Linked DNA regions of Homo sapiens: region 2 is linked to region 1. Evidence: fine-mapped expression QTL. Tissue or cell type: whole blood. Region 1 holds a variant in brackets; the other region holds the start of a gene. All regions are shown on one strand. Distances are from middle to middle.

Region 1 (8,099 bases):
GTCCTGCCTCGTGGGGAGTGTGAAGGCCATGCCCGGCGCCGCGGCCCTGGTGCCCCTGTTCCACTGGGACCCTGGGGGGCGCCGCCAGGCCCCTTGGCCTCTTCCTCGGGGCCCTCGGGACCCAGGGGCCGGTGGTGGCCGTGCCGGGGACTCGGGCGTGAGGGGTGGAGATCGCGGCCCCGGTGCAGCAGCTCAGAACCTGGACTCTGGATCGCTGCTCCCCAGCGCCCGGGGTGCCGCTTCCCACAGGGTTCAGCTCCCATGCAGGCTGCGCTCACCAGTGGAAGTGGGTCCACCCGGTCCCAGGAGAGCCAGAGCCCCGTGGCAGTCGCTGTGGGGTGTGCTCCGCACAGGCCAGAGAGCCGGCCCAAAAACCTGAGGTTTGCAAAGCCTCTTTCTTTCTTTTTTTTTTTTTGAGAAAACGTCTCTGTCGCCCAGGCTGGAGAGCAGTGACACGACCTCGGCTCACTGCAACCTCCGCCTCCCGGGTTCAAGCAATTCTTGTACCTCAGCCTCCCGAGTAACTGGGATTACAGGCGTGTGCCACCACGCCCGGCTAATTTTTGTATTTTTAATAGAGACAGCGTTTCACCACGTTGGCCACGCTGGTCTCAAACTCCTGACCTGAGGTGATCTGCCCGTCTCGGCATCCCAAAGTGCTGGGATTACAGGTTCAGTGAGCCATTGCGCCCGGCCCAAAGCCTCTTTCTTTTCAGTGCTGAGCTGGATAAAGTCTACCAAACTGAAAGGTCTCCAAGGCTATAGCTGGCTGTCTGAGAAATTATGGTGTTTGTTTAGCCCATCTTAGGACTTGGGCTATCCCAGGTGACTGAGTTTTGCTGTTTCACACCTCCCAAGGTTCTTCTCATTCTTCCTTTTCTCCATTAATGGTAACTTGTCTTCTCAATTGCTCAGGCCAGAAACCTCCGTTACCATCTTTTCTTACGTGTTTCACATCCAAACCATCAGCACATCCGGGTGGCTCTGCCTTCAAGATAGATCCAGAAGCTAGGTCCTTTCCACTGCCTCCACCACGGCCACCTGGCCCAGGCCACCCTCCTCTGCCACAAGGGTTTTTGCCATTGCCCTCCCTGGCTTCCTGTGGTTGCAGTCAGAGACCTCGTCCCTCCCACTCAGCCTTCTCGAGGGCTTCTGTCTGCTCAGAGTCAAGGTCACGGCCCTTCCGAGGGGTGAGGATCTCCTTCCCCTGGCCACACTGGCCTCCTGTTCCTCTCCAGCAAGACCAGGCCTACGTACCCAGGACCTCCGTCTCTGGCACTTCCACCTGGTCTGCTCTTCTCCAGGGTAGCTGCAGGGACCCTGATCCCCTGCCTGGTCTGTGCACACTTCTCAGGGAGGGTGTCCTTGTCCCTTTTGGGTAGGTTTTCACAGTGCCCCAACAGCCCTGTCTCCCTTTCTGCCTCATCTCCTAATGTACATTCAGTTCTGCATCATTCACTCATTTCTTGTGTATTGTCTGCCCTCGCTAGGATGTATGCTCCGTAGGGATGTATGACTGTTCCGTCAGCTTCTCCCTGGAAGAGTGTCCAGCACGTTGAATGATGAAAGAATTGATCAGCTATGATAGATCACAAGCCTCGTTCCAGAGGCCACACATTGGATTCAGAAGCTTCTATTCCTTATCTCCGTGAAAGATTGCAACGAAAATCTTGATTTAAAAATTCTCTTATTGTCTAATTAGGAAAGTTTTATTGAAGTCCAAATATTCCCATCCTCACCTTCCCACTTTTCACCGGGAGTCTGAGGAGGAAATACTGATATAAAAAATTTTTAAATCATCATTTAAGAAAAACAAAAAAGGAAATACTGAAAGACCACAGGCCAGTCTGGAAAAGGAGCGGACTCTCCCACTCTCCTGCTTCAGGTCACCTATGTTTGCCCTGTGCAGCCAGCAGGCAGAGTGCTCATTACCTGCTCTCCACCCTCGGTTCTCACTCTGGGCCCCAGGGCTCGGCCACTGGGCCAGGCCACATGTGCGGCCCTCCTTGGTTCCAAGCTGTTCTTGGACGTGGTCTCCTCCACCCCCAGAGCCTTTGCTTTCCTTTCCCCCGATCTTCTTTTCCCAGACTTCCTGGAATTTATAATCCAAAGGTTGTGTAATTTCAGAAGCTGCGATGGTTCCAAGAACTCCTGTCCCCGTCAGTCCGTCTTCTGCTTGCGCGGGCCTGGAGGAGACACTGGGGGTCAGTCCTGATCCCGTCCCCATCAGTCTGTCTTCTGCTTTTGCGGGCCTGGAGGAGACGCCGGGGGTCAGTCCTGATCCTGTCCCCGTCAGCTGTCTTCTGCTTGCGCGGGCCTGGAGGAGACACTGGGGGTCAGTCCAATCCTGTCCCCATCAGTCCGTCTTCTGCTTGCGCGGGCCTGGAGGAGACACTGGGCATCAGTCCGATCCTGTCCCCGTCAGTCCGTCTTCTGCTTGCGCGGGCCTGGAGGAGACACTGGGGGTCAGTCCTGATCCTGTCCCCGTCAGTCCGTCTTCTGCTTGCGCGGGCCTGGAGGAGACGCCGGGGGTCAGTCCTGATGTGCAGGCCGGTCTCTGTGCTTGGGCATCTTTGGGCTCCGTAGATGAGGCTTGTGCGGCCACAGAGCTGCTTCTGTCCCTGCTGCTGCTCCTGGGTGTCAGTGTCCGTTCTGTCAATTGAAGCACTGAGACTTGAGGGTTAAGCAGGCCTGGGAAGCAGGTCTTTGGGATTGCCTCTGGGGATCAGTCCTTCTCTTCCAGCGCCCCTGATGGGTAGCATGCAGTGGGGCTTTCCTGTGGTCCCCGCACAGGTCTCCCTTAGAAAATGAGTAAGAGCAGGGCCCGTGCATCCAGCCAGGGTGAGGGTCATGTGAGTGAATCCTGAAAAGCCGCTCGGGAGCACCCAGTCCTTGCTGAGCGAGGCAGGAAGCAGGGGTCCCTTTGAGTTCGCCCAGCAGAACAGCCAACCCAGCGGCCCCTCCCTGCTGTCCTGTCACTGCACCCCCACCTCTGAGTTCCAGGCCTGTGGTGTCATCCTTCACACTTAGTGGGATGAGAGACTGAACCCCACAGGAGACCTTCTAAAGGGGTCTCCTGGCCACTACACAGGCTGCTGTGAAGCCCCAGCCCCTCCTCAGGGAAGCGGGGTCTTACTTCCCTTTTAAACCCCGCCTGCCCCTGGGCCCTCACACTCTGGCTGCTCCGAGACCCTGCATCCCCTTTCATTTTCTCCC[TG/G]ATGCTCTTTGTCTCCTTCACACACTCTTCACGCCAGGGCACCGTGCCTCCCGTGTGAGCTGCTTTCAGCCTTGCTGTAGGACATGGAGGACCCCTGAGCTATTTGGGGTCACAAGGAAGCTGTTAGTATGTGGTTCTCATATTCTTAACTGTACAAGAAAGCAAAAGCCCCTTGAGGTCCCTCAGTATCCCTTCCCACCACCTGCACCCCACAGGTGGAGAAATTGCCTGCTTTTAGGGAGATAGCAGTGTAGGCCTCTTTGCTTGCGCCCTGCCTGGCCCCTGTTGGATCTCTTTTCTCTGCAGGAACTGCAGAGGCTTCTGAAGCTGGATCTTTCACTATGACATTTACAGTTGCTTGACCATTTTCTCCCGCTCTTGACAGGTCCCCCAGGATTAGCTGTGGCCACCAGAAGCAAGCGTCGATATGGAACGTGCATTCTGCTTAAAGCTCAGCAAGGCATGGTTGGAGGGAGGCCACTGATAGTCTCATTCTTTTGTCCTCAGAGCCCCCCAAGATGAACCCAGTGGTGGAGCCACTGTCCTGGATGCTGGGCACCTGGCTGTCGGACCCACCTGGAGCCGGGACCTACCCCACACTGCAGCCCTTCCAGTACCTGGAGGAGGTTCACATCTCCCACGTGGGCCAGCCCATGCTGAACTTCTCGTAAGTTGTCTCCCTCCACCCCACCCTGCTTGACTCATGGGCCGCCTAGGTCTCTGAAAATAATTCCAGACTGATCAAAGACAAAGGCCAAGCAGGAAGGTGTAAAAGGAACTTGTCCATCTATTTCAGAAAGGTGTCCTCTTGCCTGAATGTGCAACTGAGACACAGAGTGGTAAAAATGATACTTTCTGGTTCTGTTATATTTTTGGAGATATTAAGCTGACCACCAAATTACAGGCTTGTTAATCCAAACATAAAAACAAATGCATGTACTTAATTTATGTATCAAAATTAATCACCCTGGCCAGTGCGGTAGCTCATACCTGTAATCCCAGCACTTTAGAGGCTGAGTCAGGAGGATTGCTTGAGCTTAGGAATTGAAGACCAGCCTGGGCAACATAGTGAGACCTTGTCTCTACTGAAAAGTATTTAGCCAGGTGTGGTGACACATGCCTGTAGTCCCAGCTACTCGAGAAACTGAGGTGGGAGGATTGCTTGAACCCAGGGAGGGCCAAGGCTACAGTGAGCTGTGATCATAACACTGTACTCCAGCCTGGGTGACAGAGTGAGAACCTGTCTCAAAAAAAAAAAGAAAAAAATTAGTCACCCAATATTACTGAAAATAATAGTGCATGTTTGTATTTTACACGTACCCCTGAGCTATTTGGGGTCACAAGGAAGCTGTTAGTATGTGGTTCTCATATTCTTACCGTACAAGAAAGCAAAAGCCCCTTGAGGTCCCTCAGTATCCCTTCCCACCACCTGCTCCCCACAGGTGGAGAAATTGCCTGCTTTTAGGGAGATAGCAGTGTAGGCCTCTGAAGTAGAGGAGAGCCACCAGGGATGGGGAGTGGTTGAAGTATCTTTATTTTTTAATTATAGAAGTAATACACAGTTTTTTTAAAGTTTAAACAAAATATAAAAAGCAAACCCTCCCTTAGTCTCCATTACACAACTATATGTTAAGAATCTTATTAAACCAACTTGGTACTATTTGTATAATGCCTAGCAGTTTCAGAACGGGGCTGGGCACCTGGCTCTCAGACCCCCAGCTCTGAGACCCTCCATCCCCTTTTAGAAGATCTCATTGTTTTTAAAAATATCTCCTACCTTTTTATATTATTATTGATTGAATGCATGAGGTCAAAGTAATACATCTGCACATAAACCAAAAGGTGAGAATTCTGGGTAATACAAAATAACCCAGAACCCAAGCAGTCTTTTTTAAACTATAGATTATAACCCACGAAAAGGTCAGAAAGTCAATTTTGTGACTAGCATTCGAAGAAAAATGAACCAGAGTGGAAAATATATTTCAGTAAATGTGATGGTATGTGTGTTTGTGTGTGTGTCCTAGAATATGGTATAAATGTATTTCTTTGTCGGGGTTATGTTAGTGAGCATGTACCATTCTAGAAGGTGTAGCACCATCACTAGCCCAACAGAAATTTATCTTGGCCCAGCGCGGTGGCTCGTGCCTGTAATCCCAGCACTTTGGGAGGCCAAGGCGGGTGGATCACTTGAGTCCAGGAGTCCAAGACCAGCCTGGGCAACACAGTGAGACCCTAAAAAAATTTGTTTTAATAAATAAATAAGTTTATCTTGGCCAGGTGCGGTGGCTGACGCCTGTAATCCCAGCACTTTGGGAGGTCAAGGCAGGTGGATCACTAGAAGTCAAGAGTTCGAGACCAGCCTGGCCAATGTGGTGAAATTGTGTCTCTACTAAAAAAAAATACAAAAATACAAAAATTAGCCGGGTGTGTGGCTGGGCACAGTGGCTCACACCTGTAATCCCAGCACTTTGAGAGGCTGAGGTGGGCAGATCACCTGAGGTTGGGAGTTCAAGATCAGCCTGACCAACATGGAGAAACCTGGTCTCTACTAAAATTACAAAATTAGCCGGGCATGGTGGCGCATGCCTGTAATCCCAGCTACTCGGTAAGGCTGAGGCAGGAGAATCGCTTGAACTCAGGAGGCGGAGGTTGCAGTGAGCCAAGATAGCGCCATTGCACTCCAGCCTGGGCAACAAGAGAGAAACTCTGTCTCAAAAAATAAATAAATAAATAAATAAATAAATTAGCCGGGTGTGGTGGGCGCCTGTAATCCCAGCTACTCAGGAGGCTGAGACAGGAGAATCATTTCAACCCAGGAAGCGGAGGTTTCACTGAGCTGAGACCGCGACGAGCCTGGGTGACAGAGCAAAAAAATAAATAAATAAAGTTTATCTCTAAGAATCATAGAGATGGATTCCCTATAGAAACTCATAAGGTTGGTGAAATGATAAATGAGGCTTTTTTTTTTTTGGTTTGGTTTTTTTGTTTTTATTTTTGTAGAAACAGGGTCTGTGTTGCCCAGCCCTGTCTCAAATTCCTAGGCTCAAGAGATCTACCCGACTGGGCCCCTGAAGTGCTGGGATTACGGCCTTGAGTCACCATGCCAGCGAGTTAGTTTTTAAGCCGTGGTTTTGTGCCCTCAGTTCAAGATGCAGGTGCCTGTCTTTTACTGTTGAGAATTTGCACTAATGATGAAGGGTGATAAGAAACCATACCATAACTCAGCACCTGTTCTGTTTTTTACCGTAGGAATTGATTAGATTCTTACACAAGAGCATAGCTCAAAAGAGAAAGATTGTGTTAGGGTGAGGTTTACTGCAAGGGAGTGCTGAGGGCTGACACTGTGTGAGGCCTGGGCTAACGGGCCCAGGGCAAGGATATGCCCTGAGGTGATTAAGAACAGTGCTGTCTTCAGGAGCTGAGGGTCAGCAGGCAAGACAGACACAGCCAAAATGAGCAAGGTGGTGGAGGGGGCGGGCAGGTGTGCGGGTGTGGCTGGAACAGCCCGTCTTCAGGAGCTGAGGGTCAGCAGGTAAGACAGACACAGCCAAAATGAGCAAGGCGCTGGAGGGGGCGGGCAGGTGTGCGGGTGTGGCTGGAACAGCCCGTCTTCAGGAGCTGAGGGTCAGCAGGCAAGACAGACACAGCCAAAATGAGCAAGGTGGTGGAGGGGGCGGGCAGGTGTGTGGGCGTGGCTGGAACAGCCCGTCTTCAGGAGTGGAGGGTCAGCAGGTAAGACAGACACAGCCAAAATGAGCAAGGTGGTGGTAGGGGCAGACAGGTGTGCGGGTGTGGCTGGAGCAGCCACCTGGAGGGCACCCTGGACAGTTCTGGCATCCACGCAGCCCACGCCATCTTGGAGGCCAGTGCCTGGGCTTCTCAACTCCAACTTCCCGTCCAGGTTCAACTCCTTCCACCCGGACACGCGCAAGCCGATGCACAGAGAGTGTGGCTTCATTCGCCTCAAGCCCGACACCAACAAGGTGGCCTTTGTCAGCGCCCAGAACACAGGTGAGGCCCAGCTTGCGGGGCGGGAGGGCTGGCCATGGGAGGCTGCTGCCTGCATTCGAAGCAGGGGTGCAGGGATGCCCATGTGCAACCCTGCTGAGGCATGTGCTGGTGGGGACCGTGGGGATGGCCCTGAGTGTTGAGAGTGGTCCTGGGAGCCTGCGGGGCCGACTGTGTAGCTGTAGGGGCCTCCGGCACACAGGTTGTGTGCGTGCAGCCCCCTGACCATGAGGGCCCGTTTACCCAGTGCCACGTCTGCAGAAATGGCCATCAGCTGTGTGCATTCATTAGGAATTGCTGGAAAACAGGTTGGGCACAGTGGCTCACGCCTGTAATCCCAGCACTTTGGGAGGCCTAGGTGGGCAGATCACTTGAGGTCAGGAGTTCAAGACCAGCCTGGCCAACATACTGAAATCCCGTCTCTACTAAAAATACAAAAATTAGCTGGGTGTGGTGGTGCATGCCTGTAATCCCAAGCCACTTGGGAGGCTGAGGCAGGAGAATCACTTGAACCTGGGAGGCAGAGGTTGCGGTGAGCCAAGAATGCGCCACTGCACTCCAGCCTGGGCAACAGAGCGAGATTCTGTCTCAAAAAAAAAAGAAAAAAAAAAAAACCAGCCTGCGTGACTCTAGATCAGTGTTTCTTCCTGGACGTCCATTCCCACCTGCGACTTCTGCCACTGTATGTGCTAGGGGTGGTTCTGCCAGGCTGATTGGTGGGTGGAGGTGGGAGGGCTGGGGCCCAGTCTGGAGAGGGTGGCCTTCCATAGAGCACCTGCCTGTTCTGTGAGGAGAGTTGTGGCTTTCCCTCCGTATCCACAGGGTGAAGTGGGGAGGAGGAGAAATATCGTTGCTTCCACAGCTGCAGAGTTGG
Region 2 (8,099 bases), 48 kb after region 1:
GCAGCAGTGAGATGGCACCGGTGGGCACTGGGCAGCGCCAGGATGGGTGGGGGCCAGCTCGTGGGGTCCCTGTGAGCCTGAGCCACAGACCCTGGATCCCTCCCTGAGGTCCCATGGGACGGGCAGGCTGGGCATACCTGCAGAGAAGATGTGGCCAGCCACGGCCAGGAACGCATCGGTCACCACAGGCTCAGACTGCAGGGAGATGTGCAGCTGACGCGCCACGTTGCGGTAGACGCTGGGCCGGATCATCTCCAGCTCATCGCCTGTGTGGTCACAAGAGCAGGTGAGAGGCAGCCCACGTCCCAGCTTCCTGGGACACGACTGGCTTGGGGCACACCCTGCACCTGACCCCCACCTGACCATGCTTGAATTCCAGCCTGTTCCTCACTTGTCTGATTCCCACCTCCACTTGACCCCATCTGACCTCCCTTGGGCCATCCCCCAACCTTGGCCCCTAGGGACCAGAAGACCAAGGAAGTACTGAAGGCGCCCCCAGTCCCGCCCCTCTGACGAGCCAGCCCCTAAGCCTAGCCGGCCAAGCCGGTGGGGCGGGAATCCTGCGAGAGCGTGGGCCGTGCCTGCTGGTGACTCACAGCCGACAGGCAGCCGAGCTGCCCAGAGCAGGAGGGACCAGGCAGACGGCCAGACCCCGACGTGGGGAGGGGCTGGGCAGAGAAAGCACTGGGGTGAGAGCAGGGGAGCCCGACGTGGGGAGGGGCTGGGCAGAGAAAGCATTGGGGTGAGAGCAGGGGACAGCCCGAGAGCCCGGCTCAGGCCCTAGCATGGCTCAGGGACCACTCAGATGCAGAGGCTGAGCCGCTGTCCTGGGCCACCCGCACTGCCACGCTCCCACCTGGGCTGGCTGGGCCGCTGTCCTGGGCCACCCGCACTGCCACGCTCCCACCTGGGCTGGCTGGGCCCCTGTCCTGGGCCACCCGCACTGCCACGCTCCCACCTGGGCTGGCTGGGCCGCTGTCCTGGGCCACCCGCACTGCCACGCTCCCACCTGGGCTGGCTGGGCCCCTGTCCTGGGCCACCCGCACTGCCACGCTCCCACCTGGGCTGGCTGGGCCGCTGTCCTGGGCCACCCGCACTGCCACGCTCCCACCTGGGCTGGCTGGGCCCCTGTCCTGGGCCACCCGCACTGCCACGCTCCCACCTGGGCTGGCTGGGCCGCTGTCCTGGGCCACCCTCACTGCCACGCTCCCACCTGGGCTCTTGCTGCCAAGGGGATGTGCTTGGAGGTGGCACTGCATCAGCCCTGCCCCTGGCAGCCGAGGATGGCCCCTACAGGCCCACCGCCCCAGTGCTGCCTGTGGCACCCTTGGCAGCAGCAGCGCACAGGCACGGGGCAGATGGTGCCGAGAATGCCACAGGGCCCTGGGATTGGGAGTCCGCAGCCCGGCCAGTTCTCCAGCCAAAGCAAACAGGGTAATGCTGCTGACCGGACCATCCCAGCTGATAAAGGCTGCTCTGTATCTCATTAATTAAGATCTGGAAGCAGAGCAGAGCCCATGAGAGGCTGGCTGGGGGCGGGGGACGACATGGAAATTCCCAGGACTGACCCGGCAGCTCCCAAACACAGATCTCCGGGGCTGCTGCAGGCTGGCCCCAGACTGAAGGTGGGGACACAACCCGGGCTTCTTCCTGTCTGCACTGCCCAAGGGCAGGGAGACAGCGCTGGCCTCAAGGGACTGACCCTGAGCAGCCGTGAGGGCAGATGCAGGTCTGAGCTGTGTCCCTCTGGGGTCCCCCTAGACATCTGGGACTTCTTCCCAGCCATTCCAGGGGTCTGGCATCATCTTTTCAGAAGGCCACTAAAAGGATCCCCTAGGGTCATTCTCAGAGCCCGACTAGAGGCAGCAGCAGGCGGCGGATCTCATGGAGCCCCACCAACCCCCTAGCTCCCACCCAGAGACCTCTCCCTCCTTCTGAACTTCTCAGATGGGACTCCACCTCCTCCTGGAGGCTCTGTGCTGGTCCCCATGGATTCTGTCTGCACCCCACACACACTCCTGGGCAGGCCAGGTCTACACAGCTTTGCTCTCTGGGCCCAGCCCACCACGTAAGGGCAGGGGCCACCTAGAGCCCATGCCAGCGCCAGCCTGAGAGGAGGCAGCGTGTCCCCTCACGGGGTCGTGCCCTCCGACTCCAACCCCCTGCCTGGAGAGCCACCGATTCAGTTTCACCTATGCTGTCACCTCCCCTTCCCGGGCTCAGCCACAGGCGCCCCATGTGCCCTCTTCGGGCATCACATAAACATTCCCAGGTGACGGCCACAGCCCAGCTGTGGTGAGGGGACTGGACAGTCACAGTGGGGCTGGTCCCTCCCTCTTGGGTCCAGACCTTGGAGACGGTGGGGGCAGCCAGTGGACCGTGTGTGACCCCAGAACCGAGCACCCCCAGATGTCCTCACAGCACCAACGAATACTGAGGTTTTGGCTACCCAGCCCGGTGGGCGCAGTTTCCAATGGGGGGGCCTCGGAGGCCTCGGAATCCAGAGGGCAGCGGGCGGGATCTCGGCCAGTAACAGCAAGAATCTGTTTTCCAAAATAAACATCGGGACACGTGCTCCTACAAAGGGTTTCTGTGCCCAGCTGAGAACAAGGGTCACTGTGGAAGCTTAGCCACCCACTAATAGATTATTCTTTCTGGAGCTTTCTATTGTTTATGGCCAGCATGACTGAAATCTGGGCTGAGCAGGCAGCTGATGGGGGGGCCTGTGGCGTGGGAGGCCTGAGAGGGCAGATCCGGGAGCACCCGCCTGGGTGGCCCTGTCCCGAGCGCCTGGCCGTCCCAGGCAGGGGGTGGGCGCCCCTGGGCCGGACCCCCATCTCGGCCTCGGAGGGAGGCTGCGGCCCAGCAGGGGAGGAGGCGCAGCTGGGGATCCCACCAGGGCGCACTCACCCAGGCGCAGCAGCACCGCGCACACCTCAGCCAGGCGTCCCGGGACCGGCGCGGCACGCTCGGGCGCGCTCCAGGAGAGGCCGGCGCGCAGCAGCCGCGCGTGCACGTACTCCCGGCCCAGCGCCTTGGCCTGGGCCACCAGCTCCTTGTCTGTGGGCGAGCGGTCAAAGGCGTCCATGATCTCGGCGGCGAAGACCGAGGAGCGCCGCAGCACCTCCATGGCGGCGACGCGGGTGGGGGGCGCCGCACCTGCGGGCACAAGCGCTCAGCCGGGTGGAGGGAGGCGGCGCGGGGAACGGGGCGCGCGGGGCGCCGGGCTGGGCGTGGCCCTCGGGAAGGGCCGTAGCCGGCGCCGGGTCCGCTCTCGTTTTTTGTGCCCCAAATCTTTAAAAACCCAGCGCCACCTTCTTTCAGAGCCCGAATTCAGCTACAGACATTCCCCGAGGCTGCCAGGGACCGGTGGGGCCGCGGGGAGACGGCGGTTTGCTCCGGGGCCGCCGGGCCCGCCCTCGAAGACGAGTGCGTGGGCGGCGGGGGCGGAGGGCACAGCCCAGCGCGTCCCCCACGGCGACTGCCAGGACCCGGCCCTCCCCGCCCCGGCCCGGGGCCGCCCACCTCCGCCGCTGGCGTCCTGCGCGCGTGTCCCCGGCCTCGCCGTTCCCGTGGCACCCCGGGCACCCCGGCACGGACGCCACGCCCGCCGCGCTCACCTCTCCCGCCGCATGGCGCGGGCGCCGGGGTGGAGTTCTGGCTTCAGGATCTGCTCGCCGCCGACGACGACCTCGACCCTTCCATTCAGACCCGCGAGGACGCGCGCCCCGCCCCGGCGCCCGCCCCGTCCACGCCCGAGCCGGGAGCGCCAGGTCCACGGGGCTTCCCGCGCTCTTGGGGGGCTCCTGCCGCGGCGTCGGGGGCCTGGGCAGCGAGGTGGGCAGCGCGCGACTCCCAGCTGGCGAGAGGCTGGGCTTGGGGCTTGGCCTTCTAAGGGAAAGGCAACCCTGGGGGCGGAGTCGGGGAGACGCTTTCCGAGCTTCCCCGCTTAAGGAGGACCGAGCGAGTTCCCTGGATGCGCCCGGAGAAGGCGACCAGGCCGGAGCGGCCCCCGCAAGGCAGAGCAGTGGGGACCTAGAGCCAGCCCCAGCCGCCTGGGTGTTCCCCGGGGTCCATTTGAAAATTGGGTTGTCTTCTTCGTTCGTAGAGGTTCTTTCCAGAGTCTGGAGACGTGTTCTTGGTCCGGACGCATGCCCTTTGTATTGTAGATGGATTATTGGATTCGCATTTATTGAAGTTATTGCAAATATCTTCCTCTATTTTGTGGTTTACTTTTGCTTTGGATGAACAGGAGTTACTCTTAGTGATGTCCAATTTATCAATATTTTCTTTATGGTTAGTACCTTTTTATTGGGATATCCTCCTGTATTTCCTTTTAGAAGCTTGTTTTAGGGCTCATATTTAGATCTATGATTGATTACATATTAATTATTGTGAATGGTGTGGTACGGGGCTAGAGCTCATTTTTTTTCGTGTAGATATCCAATTGACCTGGCATCATTTATTGAAAAGCATCATTTTTTTTCCACCGAATTGGAGGAGTCCCCAACATCTCAACATAAATCAGCTGAAGAGTGTGTGTGTGTGTGTGTGTGTGTCTCGGAACTCTATCCCACTGGTTTATTTCTTTATCCTTGAATCAACCTCACACAGTTTGAACAATAGGATTAACCAACTTGGCCTAATTCACGTGTGTACAACACTATAAAATACTTATTCTTCCCATGTGCACATAGGATGTTTATCGAAATAGACCATATCATGGACCTTATACAAGTCTCAGCAAATCTCAACGGATTGAAATCTTACAGTGTGTCCTCTCTGAATTAAAAGTCAATAACAGAAAAATTACTGGAAAATCTGCAAATGCTTGGAAATTACATGTCACACTTCTAAATAATCAATGGGTCAATAATCACAGTGGAAGATTAAAATATGTTGACAAGAACAGTGAAAAATAAGACATATCAAATGCTGTACAGTGCAACTAAAACACTGCTTAGAGGAAATTTGATAGCTTTAGAAGAAGGATTGAAAATTAGGCCAGGTGAAATGACTCAGACCTGTAATCCCAGCATTTTGGGAGGCCTAGGTGGGCAGATCACCTGAGCTCAGGAGTTTGAGACCAGCCGGGTCAAAATGGTGAAAACCCCGTCTCTACTAGAGATACAAAAAATGAGTTGGGTGTGGTGGCAGGTGTCTGTAATCCCAGCTACTAAGGAGGCTGAGGCAGGAGAATTGCTTGAACCTGGGAGGCGAAGGTTGCAGTGAGCAGAGATCATCCCACCTGCACTCCAGCCTGGACAACAGAGTGTGATTCCATCTCAAAAAAAAAAAAAAAAAAGGAAAAAGAAAAATAAAATTACTGCTCTAAGCTTCCACTCAAGAAGCTAGAAAAGAACAATAAAACTAAAGATGAAAGGAAATAATAAAAATAAGAGCAGAAATTAATGGAATAAAGCAAAAAATAGAGAAAATCAACAAAGCCAAAAATTGGTTCTTTGAAGAGATTAATAGAACTGATAAATCCCCAGAAAGATTGAGTAAGAAAAAAGATAACACAAATTTCACTATCAAGAATGAAAAAGAGGACATCACTGTAGATACTACAAGCATTAAAGGGATAAAAAGATAGTATGGAGGACTTTTTGACAGTGCATTTGAAATTTTAGATGATACACAACTTACCAAAACTGACACTAAAAGAAATAGAAAATCTGGATAGTCCTACACCAATTAAATGCATTGAATCTGTAATTTAAAATCTTCCCACAAAGAAAATTCTAGGTTCAGATGGTTTCATTGAGAAATTCTTCTCAACAGTTAAAAAAATACCACCAGTCTCATACAAACCTGCACAGAGACTAAAAATGAGGGAGTATTTCCCAACTCATTTTATGAGGTCAATGTAATTTTAATACCGAAACCTGTCAGGAACATTACCAGAAGCTAGGAAAGCTATGGAACTTCTATCTGCTATGACTTTCCTGTCTGGGAAGTAGGAAGAATAATAATACCTACCTCCTAGGATTGTTGAGAGGACTGAATTCTTTTTTTTTTTTTTTTTTTTTGAGACGGAGTCTCGCTCTGTTGCCAGGCTGGAGTGCAATGGCGTAAACTCGGCTCACTGCAACCCCGCCTCCTGGGCTCCAGCGATTCTCCTGCCTCAGCCTCCCGAGTAGCTGGGACTACAGGCACCTGACACCACGCCCGGCTAATTGTTTGTATTTTTGGTAGAGAGGGGGTTTCACCATGTTGGCCAGGATGGTCTCGATCTCTTGACCTCGTGATCTACCTGCCTTGGCATCACAAAGTTCTGGGATTATAGGCGTAAGCCACAGCGCCCAGCCTGGGAGGACTGAATTCTTAATCCATGTCATGTAGTAAGTGCTCAGTCATTGTTAGCTGCTTTTTCAGAAAAGCTGTAGTACAGTAAAATCTGAGGGTGCATTTTAATGAACTCTTTAATGTAGAGTCTAGAGCTCCTTGGACAGTGTGCGCCTCAGATTTCTGAAGAGCAGTCAGGTTTGGGATTCCCTGTAGATAGCATTACAGAAATGCAGAGAGGGAAAAGATCTCGCCCAAGGAGTCACTGCAAGACTGGGCATGGCCAGACTGTAAACCTTGGGGTCTAACTCCATGGTTCCTGAAGTACCTCTGTCAGGGGAAGAGCCTGTACTTGCAGGCAGGAGACCAGGAAGCTCACACCTGCAACCTTCCCGCTGTGTAGCCTCAGGCAACTTCCTGCCCCATTCACAGGCTCAGTTTCCTCCTGTGCAGAATGAACTCATACTTCCTGCTTCCTGTCTCCTGTTGGAGCCGTCTCCTGGGCTCTGACATGGGGGTAGTGGGCCACTGGGCATAATTGATAGACATGTTCTGCATCCCAGGAGCTGCAGAAACCAGGTAAAGCTGTGTCTCTGGATGTTCAATATGGAACATTGCTAGCAGTAAGGAACTGAAAATGACCTAAGTGTGCCAGGCGTGGTGGCTCATGCCTGTAATCCCAGCACTTTGGGAGGCTGAGGCATGTGGATCACCTGAGGTTAGGAGTTCGAGACCAGCTTGACCAACAAGGTGAGACTCCGTTTCTACTAAAAATACAAAAAATTAGCCAGGCGTGGTGGCGCATGTCTGTAATCCCAGCTACTCGGGAGGCTGAGACAGGAGAATTGCTTGAACCCAGGAGTCGGAGGTTGCGGTGAGCCGAGCTCATGCCACTGCACTCCAGCCTGGGCAACAGAACGAGACTTTGTCTCAAAAAAAAAAAAAAATGACCTCAGTGTTTATGAAGAGATCAAGCCCAGCATGGTGACACCGCACTAGTAGTCCCAGCTCCTTGGGAGACTGAAGCAAGAGGATTGCTTGAGCCCAGGAGTTCAGGGCTGTAGTGCCTGTGAATAGCCACTGCACTCAGCCTGGGCAACTTAGCAAAGACGGGTTTCTAAAACAAATTTTAAAAAGAGAGCAGATGAGGAGATTAAGCAATCTGGAGTACCTAGACCGCAAACCCTTATTCAGACCTTAAAAAACTTGGGTCATGCTGGAGTTAGCTGAGGTCTTCCTGTCCACTGAGACCTGGAGGAGGCCCAGTCCCAGCCCTCAATTTCCCAAGAGTGCTTTGACTTCTTGGGAGCCTACATTTCTCCGGTCACCTTTGGCCCTGATTTTCTGTCTCTGCAGAACTCTTACATCCACTCTTGCCATGCAACTGACTCCTCTCTCTGCCCCAGTGTTGACCTAGCATGGAACTCGGTCCCTGGTTGGTGAGTGGGCTTCTGAGCGCTGATACCAGCCCACCAGACTGGCTTAAGCACAGGGCAGTTTGTTGATTTGTGTGACCAGAGAGAGGTCGGTTGGTTTCAGGCATAGCTGGATCCAGGAGTCTCTTTCCATCTGTGCTCCCCTGTGATGGCTCCACTCTCAGACAGACTGTCCTGGTGTAATTGCAGGATAAAGCCCACAGCTCCCTGTATATACCTCACAAGTTCAGGCTTTGCCAGTGGAAAAAAGTCGGGCTGTCCAGGTAGCTCTGGGAGATCCCTTGGGGTGGGCAGCTTCTGTACTCTGTCCATTTCCAAGCCAGCTGTGGCTGGACATGGGGAAGGTGTTAAGCAGTCAGGCCTGGGTCTCATACC

The links. PIP is the estimated chance that this variant, and not a neighbour inherited with it, causes the effect.
Region 2: BOK starts here. The variant in region 1 is fine-mapped to the expression of BOK in whole blood (TOPMed, PIP above 0.99).

Annotation. Positions count from the first base shown.
Region 1 is chr2:241,602,099-241,610,197 of GRCh38, reverse strand. It overlaps THAP4 (THAP domain containing 4), which reads left to right. Exons shown (of 6, transcript NM_015963.6): 3 at 3,725-3,884; 4 at 7,119-7,228. Among named protein-coding and RNA genes, the nearest start is that of THAP4, 31 kb to the left of the region's middle. RefSeq lists enhancers at 1-156, 157-658, 1,565-1,734 and a silencer at 1-206. The variant TG/G (reference allele first, on the strand shown) is at 3,217.
Region 2 is chr2:241,554,515-241,562,613 of GRCh38, reverse strand. BOK (BCL2 family apoptosis regulator BOK) reads right to left here and starts at 3,869. Exons shown (of 5, transcript NM_032515.5): 1 at 3,621-3,869; 2 at 2,911-3,159; 3 at 138-266. The coding sequence starts at 3,130. BOK-AS1 (BOK antisense RNA 1) reads left to right here and starts at 3,471. Exons shown (of 2, transcript NR_033346.1): 1 at 3,471-3,837. RefSeq lists silencers at 2,847-2,976, 3,027-3,096, 3,127-3,206.